3 linked regions of the Homo sapiens genome follow. The protein of the gene in region 3 interacts with the protein of the main gene of each other region in a pairwise test. Each region holds a gene or a part of one and is shown on either strand. Other genes may lie near its edges.

Evidence for each region.
Region 1: the proteins of CEP72 (region 3) and KIAA0408 interact in a two-hybrid assay, tested with the Homo sapiens proteins (one large-scale study listed by BioGRID and IntAct).
Region 2: the proteins of CEP72 (region 3) and SPATA2 interact in a two-hybrid assay, tested with the Homo sapiens proteins (one large-scale study listed by BioGRID and IntAct).

What each region holds. Positions count from the first base shown.
Region 1 is NC_000006.12:127,442,390-127,446,046, forward strand, and holds part of KIAA0408 (uncharacterized protein KIAA0408), read right to left. Parts: intron 1,894-3,657; coding exon 1,720-1,893; 3' UTR 1-1,719.
Region 2 is NC_000020.11:49,902,820-49,905,615, forward strand, and holds the end of SPATA2 (spermatogenesis-associated protein 2), read right to left. Parts: 3' UTR 572-2,796; downstream 1-571.
Region 3 is NC_000005.10:632,803-636,459, reverse strand, and holds part of CEP72 (centrosomal protein of 72 kDa), read right to left. Parts: intron 2,692-3,657; coding exon 2,513-2,691; intron 1,089-2,512; coding exon 876-1,088; intron 1-875. UniProt on the Homo sapiens protein: Involved in the recruitment of key centrosomal proteins to the centrosome.

The sequences.
Region 1 (3,657 bases), on a different chromosome or scaffold from region 3:
GCATATTATGAGAGTGATATTACTTGGTGTCTAGTTTACTTTTCTTTGATAGCTTCCTGTGGAAAAGGATCTTCCTGAAGGAAATAAGAATTAAAAGAGTAGATGTATAGACCTTAGTTACCATCCAATACAAATCACTCTAGACCTTTAATTCCACTTAACTACCGAAACTGTCCTTACAGTAAAGTATGAATCTAGACATCACCATGCTACAGTCTTGAGCCTTTCAAGGAAGTCTGCAATTTGAAAATTATTTTCTTTACCTCAGGTCATGGGGTACAATGAAGTGAATTTCTCTAAATGGTTCAAATACATCATAAGGAGATGGCTCTTGGAATACATTTGGCATAAGAATTTCTTAGTAAAAGAAAAGCTTAAATAGAGTTAATATCTAATAACATAACATAATTGGTTTTATATAGTGACAGTAGAGAGCAAAGTTCCTTCTAAAATCTTCCATTTAGAATTCCAAGCCCCTCGACATTCATATTTCTGTCAGTTTTCAATATAGATTTTATGTGTTCACTGTATGCAAACTGTAGCCAAAATACACATTTCTATTCCTGATGCTACTGTGGATGTCAAGGTTTAGTTTAAGCCTTTTTTCGGTAGCAAACTGTGAGAAGTATAATTTCAGCTTTCAAAGAAATATTATTCCTGATCTTCCTTGTTAGTAAAAAAGTAACTTAGTTTGTTATCTATTAATTTTAAGGAAAAGATTAGAAAAAGGAAAAAAATAATAAATGACTTACCTCTAAGTATGTATGACTCCATGTTAAAGCAGCTAAACTAAAAGCTTACCACAACTTAAAGAAAAACTAAAATTCAACATCATTCAGTTTCTTTTTGCATCCCATTTAGGAAATGTTTGTTGCTGAGGCTGACAAAATAAATTCATCATTTAATCATGTCATTTATAATGCAGTCTCATGATACTGTCTCTGAGGATCAAATATTCAGTTAAAGCCATACTAGACTACCAAATAATATATAAAACATTTATGAACATTTTATGCTTGCTTTACAAGGCTGATCTATTAAACTTGTGACATTTTTATTTAAAAAGAATAAACAAGAATATCAATGGTATTATTTTATCCTTATATGGGTTAAGAAATTATTTATGAGTTGTCTTTAGAAATCTACCAATGTTAGATGTGTGCATAATTCTTCTTTTTCATTGTAGCTGGGGGCCAAGGAAGTGGTCAATTAATATTTGTACTGCAAATGCCTTAAGTGGATACCTATTAAAAGGTATACAAAATATAAACAGTACTGCATATTTTCAAAACTTTTAAATAAACACAAAGAATATATAGGTATACATGTTATAATTTCAAAGTCAACACTAGCACATAAGTTTTTCATATCTAAATACATACTAGGATACTTCCTATTTCAACACATGCACCTACAAACACATGGCCATGCACATAACCTTACTTTCTGCCACTTGCAACAAAGAATATACAATATTGTACATTGTTTCAACTTATATTGTATTGGAAAACTAATGAGGATGGCATTAAAAAATTCTGATCTAAGAAATCAAAATGCAGGAAGATAATTATTCCTTAGATTAAAAACACTGAAGACTGATGGAAAGTTAAGATTCAAATTGCTTGTCGGAAGAGAACAGGTCCGCCTGTAAACACTCAGAATGCTCTGTTTGACAAGTGGGACTAGAACTTCTGTAATATAGCAATCCAGGCCAAAGACTTAAACCATCAATGCTTCGGATCGCAGAGAAATGGTATAGTTGTGGGTAGTTCTCCGCAAGGCAGGGGGTGCAGATGGAGATCTGGATGCCCATCTGGAGGGGAGACGACGATTTGCTGGTCTAGCAGGTCGGGAAAATCCTTTTCCATGTGAGGCGTTCACTGACATGGATTCCTAGGACACAAGTAAAAACATTCCTCTCACTCTCTGGGTACCAACAATAGGCTTAATATATGATGGGTCTCAACTATAAGATTAGTCCGTTAGTAAATTTACAAGAAAGAAAAAGCATTGAAAACTAAAGAAGGTAGTTGTCTAATATTTGTGGTTTTGAATGTTTTAAAGCAATTCAATTTTAATATGGAATATGATATTTGATAATTTTGTACCTTTCCTTACACTGACAAATTTTAATACAGTTAATCTCTCTGTAGAACTAATGATGAGCTCAGGATTTAAAATTTCAAGTTAAATAACTTGAATATCATGGAAATACAGATGTTTCTTAGTGCGCTGTTAGTATGTTACAGTGTTATTTAAAAATAAAAAGATAATTTATAGAAGAAACTGTTCATTTATGTCAAATTCATTGACACTTTTAGAGGTGATACGCAAAAGGCACACAAACCAAATGATTAATCTGATGCTTTTTTTTTTCACTATCACTGGCACTATCTATCAAAACCTTAAAATTATCATTAAAATACTTTTAAATACATCTTCATTCTAATTACTAATACAAAATTGCTATCTCTTGGGCATGTTCTGATGAGAGAAAACCTTTTCCTTCACTTTTCTTCTCTTTCTTTTATTTTCTTCCTTCTTTCCTTTTATTTTAATGGAAAAAAAGCATTCCTTGGTCCTTAAAATTAAAACAAAAGTACAAAGCTTCCATGACACACTTTATACACTTGGTTCTTATTGACCCTTCTTAGACCCCACAAAGCCTGTGCTCTTTCATCTGAGCTAGGCAGTGAGGATGGCCTCCTATTTCTACTATTTTAGCCATGGTCTGACAGTAAACTGCAGTTTCTTTTTCTTTTTGGAGACTTATTTTCTAGATTTGTTCCCACAGGAGGAAGAACAAAAAACAAAAACAAAAACTGCTCCTGAGGATCTATAGTAGAGAACCTCCCTGCCAAACTCCCAATGAATGCAAAAAGGGAAATCACTCAGTATTATTTCTTGTTAGTTAACAAGAATTTTGTTTGGTTATTGTACAGATATATCTATTTCCCATCTTTAGCTATAGGACCTTGTGGGCATTGATGGGCTCAATTAAAAAGCAGAGAAATACAAAAGCAGGATACTTTCTGCACCTTATAAAAACAGGCAAGATTTCTCATAAGATGGATGAAAACTGATATTTTTGCAGGGTTTGAAATCCACATAGTAGTTTTTTACACCAGAAGGAAGCAACTTGCATAATAGTTTAAAACCATGCTGCGTACTCACTGCATTCTATGAAACTAGGAGTTCTGAAGTATTGGTTAATAACAACAATATGTCACCTTGTAATTTTTGTTAGCTTCTTAAAAATTATATGAGTAAAAGAGAGTGTTGTATAACTCTTCTTTGTAAATACCAATTTCTTTGACCTCTTTTTCTCTTATAACTAATGAAGATTAAACTCTTTCATAAATAGACAGGAACAAAAAAAGATAACAGTTTACTTAAAATGTCCATTTGAGTGGGGTTTTTTTGGTCAATTTCTATGCTAAGAATACATACAAATAAGAATAACCTTATTTATATATACTATCTTTTAGTTCCACAGATAAAAGGACTCTATTAGGCACTGTTTTAAATGATGTGTATTTCCCATATTCATATTAATGTGATTAATCCTATGAGAAAGAACATGAGTCAAATGCTGAGAATGACTGAACCAATCATAGTTAATAACTGAAAAATGAAAACGATTTTAAAAATATTTTC
Region 2 (2,796 bases), on a different chromosome or scaffold from region 3:
CAAGAGGTCCAGGCTACAGCTAGCCATGATCACACAACCGTACTCCAGACTGGGAAGTAACAGAGCCCGTCTTAAACTAAAAAAAAAAAACATGGCCGGGCGTAGTGGATCACACCTATAATCCCAGCACTTTGGGAGGCCGAGGCAGGCAGATCACGAGGACAGGAGATCGAGACCATCCTGGCTAATACAGTGAAATCCCGTCTCTACTAAAAATAACGAAAAATTAGCCAGGTGTGGTAGTCCCAGCTACTTGGGAGGCTGAGGCAGGAGAATGGCGTGAACCCAAGAGGCGGAACTTGCAGTGAGCTGACATAGCGCCACTGTGCTCCAGCCTGGGCGACAGAGCAAGACTCCGTCTCGAAAAAAAAAAAAATTTTTTTTACAAAAAATTAAAAAAATAAAAAGTGCCAGGCTCGCAGTATAGCACTCAAATGCTATTTGTCAGTTTCATGGAAGAGAAAATTTAAGTCTTGTCATTAAAAAACTAAATACAGCTTAAGGAAAAATAAACTCCCAAGTAACCAAACTTCAAAGCAGGGCCAGGGGACATAAAACCCCAAACACTTCATTTAACAATGGAAGACACTTTATTATTATTATTTTTAATCATCTCTCAACATTTCAACTCTTGGTAGAAATCAAATGTAAAACATCTGCATTTTTAAATTAGCATGTATTTAACTATCTCAATCACAGCAACCTCATCCAGTAAGATGCACACCTGGGAGCAGGGCTGTAGTATTTCGTATTCCAGTCTGTGACCACAGTGCGTCCGTGATGACAGGTACACTGGACTTTCCCTCCTAGGATGTGTTAGTCATTCCTGCTTTTGTCCATAGGGTAAGTTACGTGGCATCACGGTTGGTTAGAAAGAGTTAGTTACTGTAATGCTGGCGCAATCTGGAAATGGAAAACTAGAAAACTAGAGCTCTCAGGAGTGGGCCAGGCATTGCCGATTCTGAAATGTGAAAAGGAAGAACATCAAAGATGAATGCCCTGCTAGGCTGGTCTTAGTAATAAAGTTGGTTGAAATTCAGCTTAATATACACACTGTACATCTACATGTGATCTACCAGATAGATATATATATATATATATATATATATATATATATATATATATATATATATTAAAAAGAGAGCCATAGAAGATTTGGAAAACCTTAAAATCACTCAACTGAGTTGGAAGAACATCAGCAAATTCACAGTGGCCTCAGGATTCAGCCAGACTTAAACTTGCTCAAGAGCTGAATAACTTTCTCCCAGAAAAGCCCACTGCATATAAATCCCTTAACATTGTGTACATCACAAACAGTTATGGCTAAAATATAGTTAGTTCACAAGGAAGCGGCTTTATTTTCAAACTCTTGCCCCACTCCTGCTCTTGTACCCCCACAAGGAAAATCCAGGGGTTGGTAATTCACATGAGAAGCTGAAGGGGCCTTCAGGCTTGGAAGCGCTTAGGCTTAGCTGAGCATCTGAGGAGCCGTCTCTCTGATGGGCACATGCCGACTCCTGCCCACTTTTAGTGCAAAAAGATTGCAAATGTTGCAGATGAGTCCTGGAAACTGGTGAAGAGAAGAGGATTGAGATGGAGGGGCAGTAGGAATCCCAAATGATTTTCCTTCTGAAACGAGACTCAAGAAGTGTGAAGTGCAAGGTTCCTGCTCAGCAAGCTATAGGTCCGACAGGTGAGGTCCCTGAATTGTCATAGGTTAGCAGTCTGCAGACACACAGACCTCGACACCCGCGCTCACCCCCTAAGTGCACACTGGAGGTAGGTGTATAGATAGTTACTGCAGGGAAGACAGTGGCTCTCCACCAGCTCAAGAAAAGGAGGCTTCATGTCTGTTCCTCCCTGCCCCAAACTCTCCTCTCCCCTCGGGCCATAGTGAGTGGAGGATACAACACGAATGGGCGCGAGGCCCTCCCTTGGAAGACTAAAGAACCCAGGGCATTTAATAAATAGCTACATAATTCATTTTTTTAACCACGTTGAAACACACAGCAAGTTGAATATTTATTTAAAAATAAATCTCAAAAATATCTATTGACAGTACAGTAAGAGGGGCATGTGCAAACAACAGAAAGGGGGAAGTCAGTCCTGCTGTGGGAAGCCCACACATCAGTGTGTTGGAGCAAAGTTCACGAAGGCCATGGGCTGACTGAGCTGTGGTGTACGAAATGACATTCAGCTAATACTGGACTCGGTTCACCTTTGACACCTGGAGAGGTGGGGAAGCCAGGGGGTGGGGAGTCCAGCTGGGGATCCTTGTGTTTAGGAAGGGGGCGGCCAAGGGATGAGCCTTTGGGAGAGGCCCCGTGTGGCAGGAGGGCTCATTTCACAAGCCAACAGGCCTCTAGCTCGCCGCTCCAGGTGGATGTTTGGTGACCTGAAGGGCCCTTCCCAGTCCAAGTTGGCTTTGCAATGGGAGGGGTAGGTGCAGCGAGGGTCCCAGAGACAGAAATCCTCTTTAAAGGAAAAAACAAAACAACAAAACAAAACAAAACAAAACCCCAAAAAAAGAACCAACTGAACAGGGAGTGGAGAGATTAGCAAAATGAATCTGAACGGAAGTGCCACCTTCTCCCTTGTCAGACAACAAAGCAGCCATTGGTTGAGATATCTGAGTCGCTAAGTGAACTCCCACGTGGACACAGCCAGCCCACGATCTCTGCCACCTACATGGTCAAGTGCAGGCCTCCGCCTCTGAGATCAATGCGTTAGTACTTCTTCACCGTGAAACCCGAAAGGTCGGTTGATGTAGCCCTTGGAGCTGGAAGGGGCGAGGCC
Region 3 (3,657 bases):
CTTGGTTAACTTTTCTCGCCTTTGATTTTCAAAATGTAGCTATTGCCATAACCTGGGCCCATACACTTAAAAGTGTGTGTGCATTAGTGAGAGGGTGAGGGAGGGTGTGCACACACACACGTGCAGAGAAAAAGCACTTATTTACCAACCATGAATCTAAACCATGAATGGATTATAAATTTCAATGTGCTGCATTCTTTCCAAAGACATTTTGGAGAGTTCCACAAACAAATAAATACACAGAGAACAGGAGAAATTTCATAGTAAAAGCAAACGATGTGAAAAATATTTAACTACTTAAAAAGGAACTGAAGGGAGTAAAAGTTGACAGGGATTTCATGTTGCTGTAGTTCGAAGGAACCCCCCAAAGTTCCTAAGCTGGAAACTTATTGCCACTCTAACAGTATTAAGCGGAGGGCCTTTAAGAGGTGAACAGGTCACAGGGCCAGCCCTCAGGGAGGCAGGAATGCTGTAGCACAGGGCTGGGTTCCTGATAAAGGATGAGTCTGGAACAGGTCACAGGGCCAACCCTCAGGGAGGCGGGAATGCTGTATCGCAGGGCTGGGTTCCTGATAAAGGATGAGTCTGGAACAGGTCACAGGGCCAGCCCGCAGGGAGGCAGGAATGCTGTAGCGCAGGGCTGGGTTCCCGATAAAGGATGAGTCTAGCTCCATTTCTCTGTCTTGAGCTTGCTTCTGCCTGCACCATGCTTCTGCCTGTGCCATGGGAGGACCAGCACCAGGTGCCGGCACCGTGCTCTTGGACTTCCCAGCCTCCAGAACCATGAGCCACATAAGCTTCTGTTCTTTATAAATTACTCAGTCTGTGGTTTTCTGTTACAGCAACAGAAAACAGACTAAGACACGCGTAAGTACCTGGGTGTGGGGTGAAGTACGTGTGTGGCCTGGGGGCACGGGAGGCCTCTGGCTCCGCTCCGTACAGTGGCGGAAGCTCTCCACAGAGCTGGCTCCAAGGCATCTTCTCCAGACAGCACCCTCTGCAGCTGCTCCTCCTCGTCTCACGGCCCTGCTTCCCAGAGTCCCCACACTGGTACTGTACCAACTGCGGGCTCAACAGATGTCTGGATTCTATTAAAATATTGTAAATAAAATATTTCATAAAACATTGTAAAAGTTTTATTCCATCAAAAATTACATTTTAAGCTTCTGAATAGTGTATGGTATCTGTTAGACCGAGGGGTTAATCACGTGCTGGGTGACACTGAAATGAATCCACAGTGACTTCTAACAGCAAGAGAGCTTGGAACTGGGAACTGGCGCCACTCGCCTGCGAGACTCAGGACAAGGCTGCAAGAATCCAGCCGCATGAAGTGGAGCAAAGTCAGACAAAATGATGCACAAAACAGAAGAGAGAGTCCAGACAGTCTCAATACAAAATTAGCTGGGTGTGGTGGTGGGCGCCTGTAGTCCCAGCTACTTGGGAGGCTGAGGCAGGAGAATCACTTGAACCCGGGAGGCAAAGGCTGCAGCAAGCCAAGATTGCGCCACTGCACTCCAGCCTGGGCGGCAGAGCAAAACTCCATCTCAAAATAAACAAAACAAAAAACAAAATAAACTGTGCCCTTCATAAACTGGACTGTAATGAAATTAAAACTTGTGCTCTTCAAAGCACTGTTCAGATAATGAAAAGGCCAGCCACAGAAGGGAGGAAATGGGCAGCCCTTGTGCCTGAGAAAGGGCCTGTGTCAAAACCACCAAGATCTCTTAGGACTCAATACTAAGAGAAGCAACCCCAGAACAAAGGTGGGCAGACCTGGAGAGAAAAGAAGAGACAGGCACGGCCAGTATCTCAACAGCAGCGGATGCAAATTAAAGCCATAAACACAGACCACAACCCCCTGACAGAGCAGCTAGGATTAAAGGACTCAGCTCCCAGTGCCGGCAAGGACATGGCTCGAGCACCGCTGCCACAGGGCAGACATCTTTGCACAGATGAACCTAAGATTTCAGCCCAAACTCAGGTCTCCACCTGTTGTTTCCACGAAAAGTTCTCAGAAACTCACAGCGGAGGTGGAATAAATGAAGCTAAAGCCCATCAGCACATCCCAGTGGAGGGCAGTGCCACCGGGCAACGGAGTCTCCGAGACACCCTTGCTGGGATCTACAGGTCTGCACGTGGCGGCCTGAGCTCAGGGTTTCCTGCAAGTTCGGTGACTATGCCCCCCTGCAGCTGCCGCAGATGTCAGCCCCACTTGCCACAGGACACTAGGCTTCTTGTCTGTTTTAGACAGTTTGCCTTTTCCTGTGATCTCAGAAGGATACAATTTAAACCATCATGCAGTATGACTATACTCAAATATGTTAACTTTCTCATTTATAACTCTGTAGTCCAAATGGCTGGCATTCGAAAGCACACAAAGACACATCATGAAGATCCTATCCTTCAAGGTAAGTTCCACAAAAAGAGCAACTGTGGACTCCAAGCCCAGTAACGACTATATATATCCCAGAGCCAGCGGACCCACTGGCCTCCTGGCAGATGAGCAGCGCACCTTGGGAACCACGAGAGTCGGCCTCACGCCCCTTCTGGCTGAAGCTCGTGCTCCCGGGAGGCCTGCCGAGGTCCCACTCGCACTCTGCAATGAGGTTCAGGACTGCCTCGTCATCCGCATCCATGACCAGGCTCTGCTTGGCCAAGGCCTCGGTGCACTTGGCTCTGGGGTGGTGTGGTCTGTAAGGAAAAGCAAACTCATCAGCATCACTCAAGCCAGCCATATGCTCCGGCCCACGCAGACCAGGAGAAGGAAAATTCCTGCACGGTCTCTGAGAGAAGCAGCGTGCTGCAAACGTGGGGCAGCCGGGTCCTGTTGCTTCCACTGCAGTGATGCTAAAGAGTGACTCACCAAGGACAATCGGTGAGCAACAGCCAGGTTACGTGATAACATGACAGCATCCCGGCACTGGACAGAACCCCACCAGGACTGGGCCAAATCCCAGCACTGGACAGAACCCCACCAGGACTGGGCCAAACCCCGGCACTGAACAGAACCCCACCAGGACTGGTCTAAATCCCGGCACTGGACAGCACCCCACCAGGACTGGGTCAAATCCAGCACTGGACAGAACCCCACCAGGACGGGACTAAATCCTGGCACTGGACAGAACCCCACCAGGACTGGGCCAAATCCCGGCACTGAACAGAACCCCACCAGGACTGGTCTAAATCCCGGAACTGGACAGCACCCCACCAGGACTGGGTCAAATCCAGCACTGGACAGAACCCCACCAGGACTGGTCTAAATCCCGGCACTGGACAGAACCCCACCAGGACTGGGCCAAATCCCGGCACTGGACAGAACCCCACCAGGACTGGTCTAAATCCCGGCACTGGACAGCACCCCACCAGGACTGGGTCAAATCCCGGCACTGGACAGAACCCCACCAGGACTGGTCTAAATCCCGGCACTGGACAGAACCCCACCAGGACTGGGCCAAATCCCGGCACTGGACAGAACCCCACCAGGACTGGTCTAAATCCCGGCACTGGACAGAACCCCACCAGAACTGGTCCAAATCCCGGCACTGGACAGAACCCCACCAGAACTGGTCCAAATCCCGGCACTGGACAGAACCCCACCAGGACTGGTCCAAATCCCGGCGCTGGACAGAACCCCACCAGGACTGGGCCAAATCCCGG